2 separate regions of the Homo sapiens genome follow, and region 1 is linked to region 2. The links come from fine-mapping of genetic effects on gene expression. Tissue or cell type: pancreas. Region 2 holds a variant in brackets; the other region holds the start of a gene. All regions are shown on one strand. Distances are from middle to middle.

What was found. PIP is the estimated chance that this variant, and not a neighbour inherited with it, causes the effect.
Region 1: it holds the start of RASSF6, and the variant in region 2 is fine-mapped to the expression of RASSF6 in pancreas (GTEx, PIP 0.98).

What each region holds. Positions count from the first base shown.
Region 1 is chr4:73,616,653-73,624,760 of GRCh38, forward strand. It overlaps RASSF6 (Ras association domain family member 6), which reads right to left and starts at 3,784. Exons shown (of 11, transcript NM_177532.5): 1 at 3,636-3,784. RefSeq lists enhancers at 3,258-3,807, 3,808-4,356.
Region 2 is chr4:74,575,849-74,583,959 of GRCh38, forward strand. The region is part of intron 2 of LOC107986229 (a long non-coding RNA gene); the gene reads right to left. LOC124900716 (a long non-coding RNA gene) reads left to right here. Exons shown (of 2, transcript XR_007058141.1): 2 at 3,037-5,189. Among named protein-coding and RNA genes, the nearest start is that of AREG, 130 kb to the left of the region's middle. The variant C/T (reference allele first, on the strand shown) is at 3,179.

The DNA.
Region 1 (8,108 bases), 960 kb before region 2:
CTCTCTCACCCACGTCCCCAGTAAAAGCTACTTAAAAAAAGAACAGAAAGTATCACACTAGAATAGCAAGTGTGTATTTCAATTATGAGATAAGAGTATGTTAAGGGCTGTACACACGGAGAGTCTTTTTAATAAAATATTGTTTCAGCTTGAAGAAGCAATAGAAAGTTACAATTATGTATTCATCTCCAAAACGAAACTGTTTTCTCAAAGTTATGACCTGGAACCTTGGAGTAGAGAAGAGCAGAGTTATATGCAATTACATCACTTCAAGAAAATGAGACAAAGCATCTATAATTCCATCCAGTATCTAGTTCTCTCAAAAAAGGAAAAGAGTTAACAGAGTGATGGTTTCTGGGAAACATTTGGCTCCATACTTTTTCTTAAAATGTGCTTTATTTGCAGAGACAGTAAAGGTCAAGAGTTGGCATATATACAAACTATCACTTAATTAAGTAATATTGGTTGCAGTCAGTGATTGTTGGTTTTGAGATAGAAATAATGTATTATAATCATTGAATCTAAGAGAGGACTAAGCAGAATATGAATCAAACACACTTCTATGTGAGCATGCCACTGCCCTCAGTTCAAGTGGAATCTAATTGGAAATGCCAAAACTTTACTGTTCTATTGCATATTTACATGGTACTAATGCCATGCATTTTATTCTGCTCAAGGTGCCCTCAGGGAGATAAAGAAAGCAGAAACGGTCAGAGAAGCAAATTTGTATTAAGGCACTTAAGGCATCTTGCCACCACTGGGTCTGGGAGGCGCTGCTCAGTCTGCCGACAGCATCTTCTGGAATTACTGGTGTGGTGGAACTCAAAAATTTTCTGCTTCACCTGAGCTTCCCAGTAGAAATTCTTAGGCTGACGTCACAAAGATCACGACTCATTTTTCCTGTTTGTATATTTGCTGCAAAAGAATCGACACTCTCTCCTCTTAAGCTCCTTTACTAGGCTCTAGGTGATGATGAAGTTTTCCTTTAAGTTAACATCCTTATTACTTAAATAGGAGACACTTCATGTTCTACTCCTGAAAGCAGTGGTATTAGTTAAGTTTGGTTGTTGAGATTATGTTATGAAAGTGATGAAATCACTATAATTTATCATTTTAAACATACAAATTAATTTTTGCAACAGAATAACTCTCTAACTGTAATGTGAAAGGAAAATATTCAGAATTCCTTTCTCAGAGGTTTTGTTTTCAAATGGCCTATACTTGAATATTTTAAAAATCTAAGCTTTTATATGAAGCCCATGTAACTCTAGTAACCGTGAATTCCCCACCTACATTGCAATCAATGAATCTATATAAGCAAATGGACTGTCAGCATTGGGTTTCTATCTCAGTTAAAAGTAAAGGATCCTTCTTATTTTAGGAAATTAAAACAAGAATCAGGTATAGAACTTTTAATTACATGCTTAAAAGACTTGTTACATACATGTTACACTATTTTGAATATAACTGGAAAAGTTAATTTTTTCGTAATCATTGCTGGGTCTCTCTGTGTCACTCTTTTCTCTCTTTCTCTCTCTCTCTGATTGACCACAACATTTAATAGTTTATAATAAAATGTTATACACGTGAGAAATAGTAGAATAAATGTAAATTCAACACAATATTCTAATGTATAGATATAAAGTTGTTATCTATCTATCTATCTATCTAAACAGATTTTAACTAGAAAGACTTCCACCCAGTTACGGTTAAGTAGATTAATCTCAAATCAATTTCAAATATGGTTAAATAAATTTATCTCAATTGGGGCTACTATTCTTTATTTAGACATATGTCTATCAATAAATATAAAGGCAAATAACTTTGTTTAAGGATGTATAACAATATGGAAATTCAGCATAAAAGCATATTTCCTCTTTGAAAAATCTTTAATGAATATTGGAACCCTAACTTATTCTAATTCAATTTGATTCCTTTATAAGTTTTTAGCTAAACTGTACTAAACACAATCAGACCCCAGAGGGAAATAACATAGTAAACTTCAGTTAGGTTGGGTTTAGAATTCTATCCACAATTCTCCAGTCAATATCTAATTGTAAGCACACTGAAGAATTTCAACTCTGCAATTTGAAAAAAGAATCCATTAAAACACCAATGATATTAAGTTAGAGTATACTGCAAACTCTTTGACTGCTTTATTTAATAAAATAACAAGATAAAAATGAAGTCAATGGAAATTACTAGTCATAGACACTAAGTTGGTCCCCTCAAGAAAATTAGCAACATTAATAACTAACAACATTGACAAAAGTGCCCTTTAAGTGAAACTTCATAAAATAAAGCCACTTTCCTGTAATTTAAGCTTAAGAGGTAGAGACTGACAAAATACAAGTATTATTCCTTCATGTCTCTTGTCCATCAACACAAATTAAAAACAGCACTTCAATACAAACAATTCAATATGTGCTGAAATATAAAGACATGGATTATATGGTCTAAATTGATGAAAGTTATTCAAAAGCAGTCTCCTTTATAAAACCCAAATGGCATGAATTCCACAATATGAGATTGTGTGTAACTCTCTTACTCTAAAATTCTATTTTCTTTTTAGGAATAACAGATTAATGTAAATGTGAATTTTTCAAAAGAAAACTGATTGAGTAGCAAATATGTCTGAATTTGCCACCACATACTCTATCTGAAAAATGGAAAGAAGCCAGGTCATTTCGTTGCTACCCAGAGAGATGATCCTAGCACACCTGTCACCTGCTTGCCTGTCCTGGATCCAGTCTCCGGGAACCAGTTCAATTCCAGCATCCTAATACACACTGTCTGGTCTCCCTAGTTCAGCTTGCCCTCCCTGATAACGGCCCCTTTGGCAGAGCAGCTTATTCTTAATGCTAACAGTAGGTATCACTTACAGAACACTTGCTGACTGTTCAGTTCCCATCAAAGAAAGCCTTATGTGGCAGATCCTTTGATGATGCTTGTTTTACAGACAAACGTTTGGGGCTTAGGTTAAGAAACTTGAGAGGGGGCAAACTAATAAGTGGCAAAGCCGAGCTTTGAACCTACCACTCTTCTGCTTCAGAATTCATATCCTTAACTCATGCACTCCCATTTAATTATTTATGTTTATTATTTCATTGTTTGGTGAGCGCTTATATTGAAAATTCATTTTTTTTTTGGTGGGGGGCATGCTTTCTGTCACTTTGCAGAAACAAATAAAAGTTGAGCTGAACCCTCAATTAAGTTCTTTCCAGTGCGATGATTCAACACAATATTCTAACCATAAGGATACTCAGAGGAAGGAGTATGCCATCCAGAAGTCTAGTATCTTTGTAAGGCACGATTTTTGCCAGGCACAATTACAGGTGAAGGGCTCATTGAACTAAAGGGAGGAGGGGTCCTATGGTCACATTTACCTCCAAGCCCTTCTCTGCACCCTTTCCCTCCCTTCTTTCCCCTCTCTCCCTCCCACCCTACAAGCTTACCTTGGTTAGGAAAGCATATTCTGAGAAAATCAAAAGGAAAAGGCATGTGTGCGATTCAGGCTGCTATGACACACACACACTTAACTTTGTTGCCTATGGATTCTGCTTTCTAATAACTTGCCCTCAACATGACCCCAGGGAGTGGATTAGAAAGTTTTTTTCCCCATCCCCATTTTTTACCTGTTATTCACACTGTGAGCAGGAGGACCCTTTTCACCATCGTTGTTCGGCTGAACTTGCTTCGCGGTTTGTTCTCGGCTGGGTCAGGAACTCTGGTAGAGGGAAACCAGTGCCCTGTCTCTGCCGGGCTGGGACTCCGCGAGTCACTCACCTGTAGGGGAGGTCCGAGGCCCGCGCGGGCGCAGGGGCGGCGCCTGTCTCCTCCCAGAGCATGGCTCAGCTGGGCGCTTGCAGTGCCCCCGACGCGATCAGCGATCCTGGAGCCCCAGGAGCTGTTAATTATTTCTCCTTTTCGCCACAGCAGGGAAGTGTCAAGAAACCTGAGCCACTCCCTGTGCCTCAGTGCATGTTGGGAGTGTTTACTTTCTTAGGAACAGCTGATAGGTACACTCCTTTGCTCTCTGCCACACTTCTTGAGAAATGAATGGACATTCTAGTTAACGCTTTAACCACGGGATTTGACTGATGTTAATCTCTATTCTCTAGTCCACCCAGACTGTAGGTAATTGGCCTGTGAGAAATGACACCAACCAAGACTGAACGCCATTATTCACGTCTTTCTTTTTAAGATTTTTCTTTTCCAATTTGAGATTTGTTAACTTTCTTTTCCTTGTTATTTTGCTAACACATTTCCCTGCTAGCACTTTTTTTCACCCAGAGCAGCGTTTCGCGCTTCAGGGTGCACCAGGACCACCTATGTATTCTGCTAAACCCAGGTACCATCAACTGTGAGACTCTGATTTAGTAGGCCATGCATACACTTCGGGTATTTATATTTTTTATAAGCTCCACAGAAGAAACTGGTAGACATCAAAGTTTGAAAATGAACATAATGAAACAAAACAGAGGAGATAAATAATAATTTAGTCATTATCTACTGAATTGGATTTGGGGGCTTTGTTTTATCCAATATCTCCAATTTCAAAAGGACACCAAAAAGGCTTAGAAACTGTTAAATGACAGATGCTGTGGAAATATGAAGTACATTTACACACACACACACACACACACACACACAGATTTTTAAGGATCATTGTTATTTTACTGGTTTCCTATGTAAAGCAACTATTCATAATTTTTAAACATAATAGGTTATTTTACAAGTGTAAACCTGAGAGCCCTCAAAAGAAATTCAATCTGATTCCTGCAAAAAGTTCAGCAGGCAGAGTTAATTTCTAGTATCTTTCGTGTTCAAACGCCAGACAAACAGAATGACTCTAGATGTTCAGGTTGCATGTTTGTCATAGCACTTTAAGTAAGATCCTATATGTTCAAAAGGTGAGGCAGGCCAGGTGCAGTGACTCACGCCTGTAATCTCAGCACTTTGGGAGACCAAGGCTGGTGGATCACTTGAGCCCAGGAGTTCAAGACCAGCCTGGACAACATGGCAAAACCCTGTCTCTGCAAAAAAAAAAAAAAAAATTAGCCCGGCATTGTGGGGCATGCCTATAGTCCCAGCTACTCGGGAGGCTGAGGTGGGAGGATCACTTGAGCCTGGGAAGTCGAGGCTGCAGAGAGCCAAGATTGCACCACTGCACTCCAGCCTGATTCAAAAAAAAAAAAGAAAAAATATTAGGCAGTTTATCTATTTAATCTGTGGTGTGCGGAGACCAGGAACTATCAGATTTATCATTATTTGAGCAAATGGTTTTATTGGATCACAATCAAAGATTTTACAATCTTATGTAAGGACAGATGTGACTTAGTATTACTTGCAGATATTAATTCGATCATCATGTTGGCTCCATAACTCTCTGGTATGTGGCTGCTGGTATGGACTGACCTTTGAATGATGACTAGCAGGACCTAGAGTAGTTACAGCTCTCGGTTCCAGGATATCTTGCTCAAATCCATGCTCCACCTCCATTGTCTGTGCTTGAAGTGGGTCATTTGCTTATTGTCAGCATCAGGGCAACATTCTTTTGCATCTTTTACCTGCAAGCATTGGATTTGGGGGCTTTGTTTTTTGCCAATATCTCCAATTTCAAAAGGACTCCAAAAAGGCTTAGAAACTGTTAAATGGCAGATGCTGTGGAAACTTTTACTCTGATGACTGCTTTCCAACTGGTTTTCTAAAGAAAAGTAAAGTTAGAGGCTTAGTGACTTCGTTTTTTAGTGTTTTATCTGTTTGTAAATATGTAATTTTTATTTGATAATATAAAAAGTATATAATTGCACATATGCAATGTGGAAAATCTGAAAAACACAGAAATGTAGAGGACAAAAAGCACCTATAATTCCATCTCTCAAGTATAATCATCATAAACAATTTGTTGAATGTCTTTATTGACTTATTTTCCCTGTGGCTGTTTATCAAAATGCTATTACATTTGGTTTGTTGGTTTATAGCCTGCTTTCATCACATCAAACGTAGTATGAACAATTTACTATAAATCAGTCACTTTTTTTCCTGCAATGTAATTTTAACTAGCTGCTCTGTATTGCACCAAATGAAAATACCGTTACTTATTTAATTATTATGATAAAGTTATACTGTTATAAACAACACTGCAGTGAATGATTACATATGATTCCACACAAGCATGACTACACCTTTTAGATACATTTCAAAAATTGAAGTTACCAGATGTAAGGCAATGTGCATTTTGAAGAATTTCCCTGCTTAAAAAATCTTTGTCAGTTTTATACTCCCAGGGCAGCTAACATGGGTTATTATACTTCTTTTAAACATTTATTAATTTGAAACATAAAAAAATCCATATCTTATTTTAAATATATATATTATCGTACTTGTAAGTTTGGGCTCTTTAGACTTTGCACTTTTGCTTTATTGTTTATTGGACTCTTTGCTCATCTTTTTTCTTATTGATTTATAAATTCTCTTTATATATTAAACATATCAACTCTTCATCATATATGCTGTGACTATATTTTCAAGGTGACTTGTTTACCTTGCAGTCTTGTCTATGGTATTTTTGACATATAAAAGTTTAAAAATGTAAATGGTCGAATCTATTATTTTTCTTTATCAGTTACATCAGTTTTATAAAAGCTTTCCCATCCTTAAAGAATGTAAAAATGCACATATATTGCTTCTTCTAGTTTTTCTAAGATTTAGATATTATTTATTTATTAAATTGAACATTTTAGCCCATCTAGACTTTATTATGTTAATACACCATGAAATTTAGATCTAACTTAATTTTTCTAAGTTATTAGTTTGTTAACTGAGTCATGTTTATTAAATAACTATAGATTATAAAATTTATGAAGGCAAGGACCTTCATAAATTCATAATGTCTTATCCTCTATTTTAACCACTAAGCTTAGCACAGTGACTGGCAGGCCCATGGTTGCTCAGATCAAATGTTTAACTAGCACTCTTGATTTCTTTCTTTCCCTCTTTCCACGCCCAGTAAATGAGCAAGTCCTGATGTTGTATCTCCATGGCTACCACCTTACATCAGGCCAGCATCATCTCTTGCTTGGATACCACAAATGACCTCCGAACTGGGCTTTATGCCTCCCCTCTTATCCTACTACAGTCCATTCTCCACCTGTGGCTAGCGTAATCTTTTATAAGCAATATCCAGACAACAATACCACTTCTGATTTTCTTGGTTTAAAGGCTTTCTAGTGGTTGCACCGCACATCTGGAATAAAATCTAAATCTGAACTGCTTACCATGCCCTACAATGCCCCACATGACTGGCTCATCCCTGCTTCTTCGACCTTTTTGATTTTCTGCTTCCTTGGTACTAACTCTAAACTTGCTACCCTGGTTAATTTTTATTTCTGGAACAGACTAAACTTCTTCCTGTCTCACTGCGTTTGTATTTATTATTGATTCACTCAAGAAAGCTTTGCTCTGGTCATGGGTAGTTTCTTTTCATTACTATGTTTTTTTCCTCAAATATTACCTCCTTAGAAAAGCTTCCTATGACGACTGTATTCGAAGAAGACTTCTGATCTTTCTCTATTATAGCACCTTGTTTTATTGTATTTGTGGCAATTATCATTAGCTAATTATGTTTTATTGTTTGGGGTTACCTCTTTATTTTATGTCTCCTGTCATTAAAATATAAACGCTAAGAGATCAGGAACCTTGACTTGTAGGTTCACTCCTCTATGCTTAGTGTCTAGAACAATGTGTGGTCCCCTGAGGGTCAAGAAACACTGGGTCAAGAAAAAATAGTAACAATAAATAAGCGTTGAGTAAATAAATGTAGATCACACTCTTTCTTGATATGAAATGACACTTTTATCAAATACTGAGGGCATACATATTTTTTGCCTTACACTTCATTTCATATCTGAGGCTGTACTTAAAGAATATGTGCTAGGGAAGGAAAAAAGGAAGCAGAGGCAGTGTAGTTCCAAACAATGAGGGGACTCCCAGTAAAAACCTAGCTGGAAAATTGCCTTAAAGAGGAAGCCAGGCCTTCACAAGGAGGCAATGTGTTAATTACATTTCCGATGTGTAAAGCTTAAAATAAATATATTTTACAACTG
Region 2 (8,111 bases):
TGAGATTAAATAAAATTCTCCAATGTCTCTGGACCCCTTCCAAATGACATTCCACACATCTGCAGTAAAGAAGGAGAGCAGATGAATATGTAAGATCAGCACATTCCCTATGAAAAGAACACCTTTGTCAGGACATAGTCTCTATGAGGTCAGGGATTTTTCTAATAATATTCACTCCTATGTCCCTCATGCTTAGAAAAGTATTTGTTGAATGGATATACACAGGCATATATTCATATGCTTGAATGAACTTCTAACACATAAAAGATTGAAGGCCTATCATTGTCCTCAACAAGAGAAATAGAGAACATTGTGTTGGGTGTTTGCCATAGGCCCTTAAGTTTTGTCTGAGTGAAACAATGAAAGAAGAAGACATCTCCATTCTTTGTCCCCCTAACCCCACCAAAAAATGTTTTTTCTTTTCTTTTTTTTTTTTTTTTTTGTTTTTTTTGAGACAGAGTCTCACTGTGACACTCAGGCTGGAGTGCAGTGGTACAATCTTGCCTCAGTGCAACCTCTGCCTTCTGGGTTAAAGCAACCCTCCTGCCTCAGCCTCCTGAGTAGCTGGGGACTGCAAGCATGCACCACCACACCTGGTTAATTTTTATATTTTTAGTAGAGATGGGGTTTTTCCATGTTGGTCAGGCTGGTCCCGAACTCCTGACTTCAAGTGATCTGCCCACCAGAAGATTTTTAAGGTTCATGACTTCTAATTGGATCAGATAAACCCTAAAGGGGTTATTGAATCACAACTTCAGGCAGAAGTACTAGGACGATTTCTACCCCATTGCAATGAAAGAAAACAAAGTACAGTCCCTCCTACAGAGGGAAGATAGTGCCGATTTTGACAGAATATAAAACACAAAGTAAAGGCAAAAAGAAAAAAAATATTTTCTTAACACTTTTGGATAAAACCAGGCTTATCTTTGTTCTCAAGCTATTTCCAGGGAGCTAGAGTGGATGGGCCACTTAGCAATATCCTTATACACACAATCCTTATTAGAAGATTGCTTCATGATGAAATGTCAGGCAACCCATCAAAATGCTATTGATTATGTTATTAAAGAGTACAGATAGAAAATAATAAATCAATTGTGGTTGTTGCTTATTCAGACTTTTAAAGATATGTGAACAACCTGAGACTTCATCTTTAGAGAAGTGGATGAGGTTTAAATGGGGCAAGACTTCTTTTCCAGATAACCAATATATCACTTTTTAGCTGAAAGGGACATAAAAACTCCATTTGGAGGCTGAGGGTATATTTTTCAATGTCTCAAATGAGCTTCTCTTTGAAATATTAATGATTCGTCTCAATGGTGCCCAAGGAAGAAGTATTGATGGTCAGACAACCAAAACTACCTTCAAATTTGATGGTATTTTTGTTACATATGCTACATTCAATGGAAACATTCAAGAGAAACTTTCTAGCATAGACTAAAAGATACAGCAAGACAAACCCTCACCACTTGGTGCTGAGGGACAAATCCAGCAAGTCATGTTGGAGTGTTTGTCTCCCTGCCATTGTCACTGTGAGACCCAGTTATTGGTATGAAGAGGTGTTGGGAAAAGACTATTACTGATTGCTTATGTCAACTAAACAGATAAGCCAAGATGAAAGATCTGTAGTTAATGGTTTTTCTGCTTTTGCTCGACATAAAATCTAAATTGTTCATGTTGACATACTCATAATGAAATGAGTTAACTCTGAGAGTTATTTGGCCACTTTTTGTTCTGTTTTGTGTGTTGAAGCTAGGTGCTAATCTCACAAGCACATTCATTTTCAATTTTGCTAGTCTTTCTTCATAGAACTTCTTCTGATTTTTATGTTTTTATATGTTCATTTTTTATCTCCCACCCTTGAAAGTAAACTCTATTCTTTGTCTAGCATGTATAGCAGTGTCATCTCAGCTCCTACTATTCATAATAGGTCCCCAATAAATAATTGATAAATGACAGGAGGCTTTGCCAGCATTAGTCACCTTCCCTCAGAAGATTTCCATCTCTTCCTAACTTCAATTTTTGAAATAGAAGGCATATGAACACACTGTAATTCTTCCCCTTAAAGAATGAAAATTGGCCAGGAGCGGTGGCTCACGCCTATAATCCCAGTACTTTTGGAGGCTGAGGCAGGCGGATCACGAGGTCAGGAGATCCAGACCATCCTGGCTAACACGGTGAAATCCCGTCTCTACTAAAAATACAAAAAAAATTAGCCAGGCTAGGAGGCGGGCGCCTGTAGTCCCAGCTACTCGGGAGGCTGAGGCAGGAGAGTGGCGTGAACCCGGGAGGCGGAGCTTGCAGTGAGCCGAGATGACGCCACTGCACTCCAGCCTAGGCGACAGAGCAAGACTCCGTCTCAAAAAAAAAAAAAAAAAAAAAAAGAATGAAAATTCACCTCAGACGCCCTTACCAGAGGACTGGCATTTGGAAAAAGAATCTAATACTAATTTTCCTGCTGAAAGAAGACTGCTGATAAAGATGATTATAATAGTCCTGGTTGGTAAACTTATTTTGATGATGCATTAACTATAGCTGGGTTTTCACCTATATGCTTTCAAAACATACACAGAAAGGGATTAACTTGAGTGGCTAAATCAATATGGTTGTTAAAACTAGCAGATTAAGTAGTTATACAGTAAGTACAGATGACAGAGTACAATACAAAAATTGCTTATTACTCATCCTTAAATAAATTAATCATCTATTATGGACAGAGAAAACAAATAACTTCATCCAGGGAAACTCACTGAGAGAACACACTTCCTTAACATAAACAGTGGAAACAGAAATCATGTTTCATGAAGTAGTTTTCAAATATGCAGAGTCAATATGGTCTACAGTAACAAAATGAAGATTATTACTTTTCTTCAGTTGAATTTGCCTTATATAACCAACCAGTGTGTGAGTTGGTGAAAATGCCTGTATTGTCATATGGTTTTATAACATGGGGGTTAGACAGACCTGATTTATGTATTAGTTTCCTATTGCTGCTATAAAAATTTACCACAAACTTATTATTATTTTTTTTTTCCACAGAGTTTCGCTCTGTTGCCAGGCTGGAGTGTAGTGGCGCGATCTTGGCTCACTGCAGCCTCCGCCTCCTAGATTCAAGCAATTCTCCTGCCTCAGTCTCCTGAGTAGCTGGGACTACAGGCGCGCGCCGCCACGCCCGGCTAAT[C/T]TTTTTGGATTTTTAGTAGAGATGGGGTTTCAACATGTTGGACAGGATGGTCTCAATCTCCTGACTTCGCGATCCGTCTGCCTCGGCCTCCAAAGTGTTGGGATTACAGGCGTGAGCCACCGCGCCCGGCTAAACTTACGGTTTTAAACAACATAAGTTTATCATTTTATAGTCCTGGAGGTCTGAAGACTGAAATGGGTGAACAAGGCTAAAATTCAGGTGTCAGGAGGGCTGCTTTTCTACTGGAAGCTCTGGAGGATAATCTGTTTCTTGTCTTTTCTAGCTTCTAGAGGCTACATGCATTCTTTGGATCATGGCACCTTTCTCCCACATTCAAAGCTCATGACTCTAACCTCTGCTTCCACCATCAGATCTGTTCTCTGACTCTAACCCTCCTGCCTCCCTTTTATAAAAACCCTTGTGTTACATGGAGTGCGTTACACTACCCAATTAATCAAGGATAATCTTCCCTCTCAAAATCCTTAGTTTAATTTTATCTCCTAACTCTTTCTTGCCATGTAAAGTGACATATAGGTTCCAGAGATTAGGACATGGACATCTTTAGGGGATTATTGCACTGTTTACCACTGTTTATATGCCTGCTTTGCCAATTATAAGGTGAAATTTGATGTTTCTGACCGTTTTTTATGTCTAGAATGGGAATTATTACAAATCTCAGTGTTGCGAGAATTAAAGGAGACAAGTAGTATAAAGCATTTACTACACTGGCTGGCACACGGTATCAATACATTATAGTTAGTATGCAGGTTTTATTATCCTTGGATTTGGTAAATATGACAGACTGGTTCTTTGATTGACTCTAATTATAGACACATAAACCCTGGAAGTACAAAAGCTTTAATTTTTCATTTGCTTAAATGAAAGCCAATGTCTCATGTTTTCAATTTCTATAGCAAAACAATATGACCTATTCCTTAAAAGGGAAATAATAATGAGATCTCAAGAAGGAAATAGAAAGAAACAATAAACATTTTAGAAAGTTTTGGCTATAGGAATTTTAACCAAAAGCCAATTTTATAACTGAGGGCACACTGACCCAGACACTCTCTGAACAGTGCCCCCGAGCACTCACCAGCTAGAAGCGTTTGCAGGATGGTTTTCAGTTCTGTTTGCTTTACTAGTAATTGGCTCTTTGGGTGGTGAGTGGGGAATACAGATACACACATAGTGGACAAACACACACCCACACATGTAATTTCAAAGAAAAGCAGCATATTAGCAAAGTACTGTGAGCAGTTGTCTTAAATAGGTTATGCGTGTACTCAATAAAGTAAGTTTCTTCCCTTTTACTTACTTATGAAAATTACTTAAAAATGCACTGTACATGTGTGCAAAAAATATGAATATATTCTATCAAGGAGCACTTTTGATTTTTTTTCCTTAAAAGCTATGTAATAATTCATGCATATGTATATTTAAGTAGTTCATCTTTAGCAGTCTGCCCACTTGGGGAATTTATTTTTATCTCTAATTTAATTCCAATTTTTCTTGCAGAGAGTTAAAAGCTAGTTATACTTTGTGTAAAAGACAGTCCAACATTTGAAGATTATTATAAAAGTCATACTAACATTTATATAACAATCCTATAATTTGATATAAATCTGTTAGTTGTGTCTTCATTTACATCTTATTTATGTTTAACTTCATACACTATGAAGATGATATTTGTTACCTTTTGGCTCTTTTATAATTTGGTTCGTTTTGATGTGAGTTTTTTAGGAAAATTAGCAAGTAATAGAAAAAAATCATTTAGCAAGTATATATTGAACATTTATTATATTAATGTCCTGTTATATTGATCTCCTATTATATTCCGGGTCATGGAGTGGAACAAGTGAACCTGAATCCCAACTCTCATGGAATTTACATGTAGGGGACTATAGACAATGGAGAAATCAATAACATGTTGGTATGTTTGTTGTACTATGGCAGTGATATGTACTATGAAGAAAAATAACAAAAATAAAGGGGCATTAGGGAAGAAAAACAATAAGAAGTTGTATTTCAGACTGAGTATGAACAAAGAAGCTCCCAACTGCTGTCAGCTAAGAGATGGCCAAAGTGTTCTCTGGTTAGACATAAATAATTTTGCAGAAAAGTAAAATCAGACCAGACCACCTTTGTGACTGTATTAGAACAAGACAAAACCAAAACCCAATAGTAACCCTATCTGAGCACAGATAAACACAGTAATATTGTGCAAATCGCAAAAATGATCAAACATTCCCTTCATCCAGCTAATATAAATAATAGCTTTTGCTGATTCTTCATCAATTATAGCTTTAGTCTCACACCATTCATCCTAGTTAAAAATTGTTAAGAATTGCCCATTTTCTGACAGCCTCCAATATGGAAGCAAAATCATGCTTCACTGAATCCTCCCTAAAATCACCTAGCACAAACCTGAGCCCTATGACAAATTCCTTCTAAAACTCCCTTATTGTACACTACATGGCTACTCATGGTGTGTTTCTCTCACAGCAATGAGCCAAGAAGCCCAACACTGACTATAGGTGTGTTCCTCATGGTCTTTGGTTGAAAATCATAGACAAGAAAGTCACTTCTAATTTATGTGTATTTTATAGAAAGAGAGTCTTGCCATATTGCCCAGGCTGGTTTCGAACTCAAAATACAAAAATTAGCTGGGCGTGGTGGTGTGCATTTGTAGCCCCAGCTATAATACTTAGGTGGCTGAGGTGGAAGGATTACTTGAGGCCAGGAGGTCGAGGCTGCATTGAGCTGTGATCACACCACTGCACTCTAGAGTGACAGAATGAGACCCTGTCTCAGAAAAAAAAAAAAAAAGTCACTTGTGATTAATTGACAGTTAATAAAACACCTGAATAAAGTTAAAGAAGAACCATTTGGCTATGTGAAGAAAAGGGAAACAGTGAGTGCAAAGATCCTAAGGTAGGATCATTCCTGAGTAGGTTCAAATAAAACCCAGAATACAGAGATGGTTGAATCTGAATAGGTGAATAAAAGAGAGGAGGGAAATAAGGCCAGGTCCAAATTGTGAAGGGTCTTATATGCCATACATCAGACACTGAATATTTGTGTCTCCTCCAAATTCATATTCCCTAATCCCCAATGTGATCATATTTGGAGATGTGGGCCTTTGGAAGTTAGTCAGGGTGAACTGAGGTCATGAGAGCGGGGTCCTGGTCTAATAGGATTAGTGCCTTTATAAGAAGGCACTAATAAGAACAAGGGAGCTTGCTCTTTCTCTCTCTCTCTCTCCACTTGCATGCACCAAGGAAAGGCCATGCGAACACACGGTAAGAAGGTGGCCATCTGCAAGCCAAGAAGACAGCCCTCACCAGATCTCAATCATGCTGGAACCCTGATCTTGGACCTCCAGCCTCCAGAACTATGAGAAAACAAATTTCTGTTATTTAAGACACCAAAATCTAGGGTATTTTGTTATGGCAGTCTGAACAGACTAAGACACATAGTAAAGATACGAATTTTACCTCACTGGAAATGAATTGGAAACTTTTGAAGGATTTCAATAAAGGAGAGTAGGACCTGACTTATGATTTAATAGAATCAGTCTAGCTGCTCTGTTTAGAATATGTTGTAGGAAAGTTGGGAAAAGAAGCATGGGATCCAGCAAGGAATTCAGGCAGTAGATGGTGATGGCTTTTTCAATGTAGCAGGAATGAAAGTGGTGAGACAGGAACATTGAGGATAAAATATCCAACTGAAATACTGTCTTGGATATCAGATTTATTTTGAAAGTAGAGCCAACAGATTTGCTTACCCATTTAATGTAGACCATGAGAGATATAAAAAGATAAGCCAAAAAGGACTTCAAATCCTGAGATAATAGATGAATTCAGTTATCATTTTGCTTAGATACATAAATCATGGGGATGAATAGTTGGGGAGATTATAAGTTAAGATCTCAACTGTGGACAAGTTAAGTTTGAAATGTCTATTCTGTATTCAAGTGGAGATGCCCAGTAGACAAATTTCTGAACTGAAGCTCAAGGGACCAAAACTGTAAATGTAAGTTTAGGAATTTATATTTAATAGATGACATTTACAGTCATGAGCATGGACAACCTAGGAAATGAGAAGACGAAGGTCTGAGCCCTGTGACACTTCAACACAGGCTGGGAAAGAGCTGTCAGTGAGGAAAGAAAAAAAAAATGCAAGTGTTTAACCCTAGATCAAGCCTTGCTCCACATGATAAATGATCACCTAATAATAAGTGTCATATGACAAGCTTGGCCTGTAGGAGTGGTGTTTGTTTTAGCTCTTTCAAAAGTGTCTCATGTGGGTTCCACAAGATGATAGTTGAAATCCTGGGTGTGGCAATGTTTAAAAATTTATTTTTAATCTTACTCCTTCTTCTTTATTCCCTGGACTGAGTAGGGACTAATCCAGCCATTTTCTATGCAAGTGTTTCTCACAATAAGCATGAAAATTTTCTGGGTGCTTATTGAAAAATGCACATTCCTGAGCTCCAACTCAGATCCACTGAATCAGAAACTCTGAGAGTAGCATGCTGGAACTTACATTTATAATAAGTTCCCAAGTGAGTTGCCATGCACATTAATATGGAAAACAATAAGCTATTCTTGTATTCTCACCTTGTCATAAAGAAGGAAAGGAGTTAATTGTAAAGAGTCAAATTTGGGGCATTATAATGGGACAAGGATCTTTTAGAGAGGATAGCTAAACAAATACTATAATCAGATATTGGCATTACCACTCCTGGCCACTCATTACTTTGTAAGTATCTATAGATAGTCTCATTTTGATGAAAATAAGGAATGCATAGTATTTTTTCTAAAGATATCTTGGCACCAAAGTGAAAATATCTTTGCAGGTGTTGTGTCACAACCAGAATTCCCTACTTCCATTTAGAAAAACATTATTTAAGCTATTGCCTGCAGAAATGTTG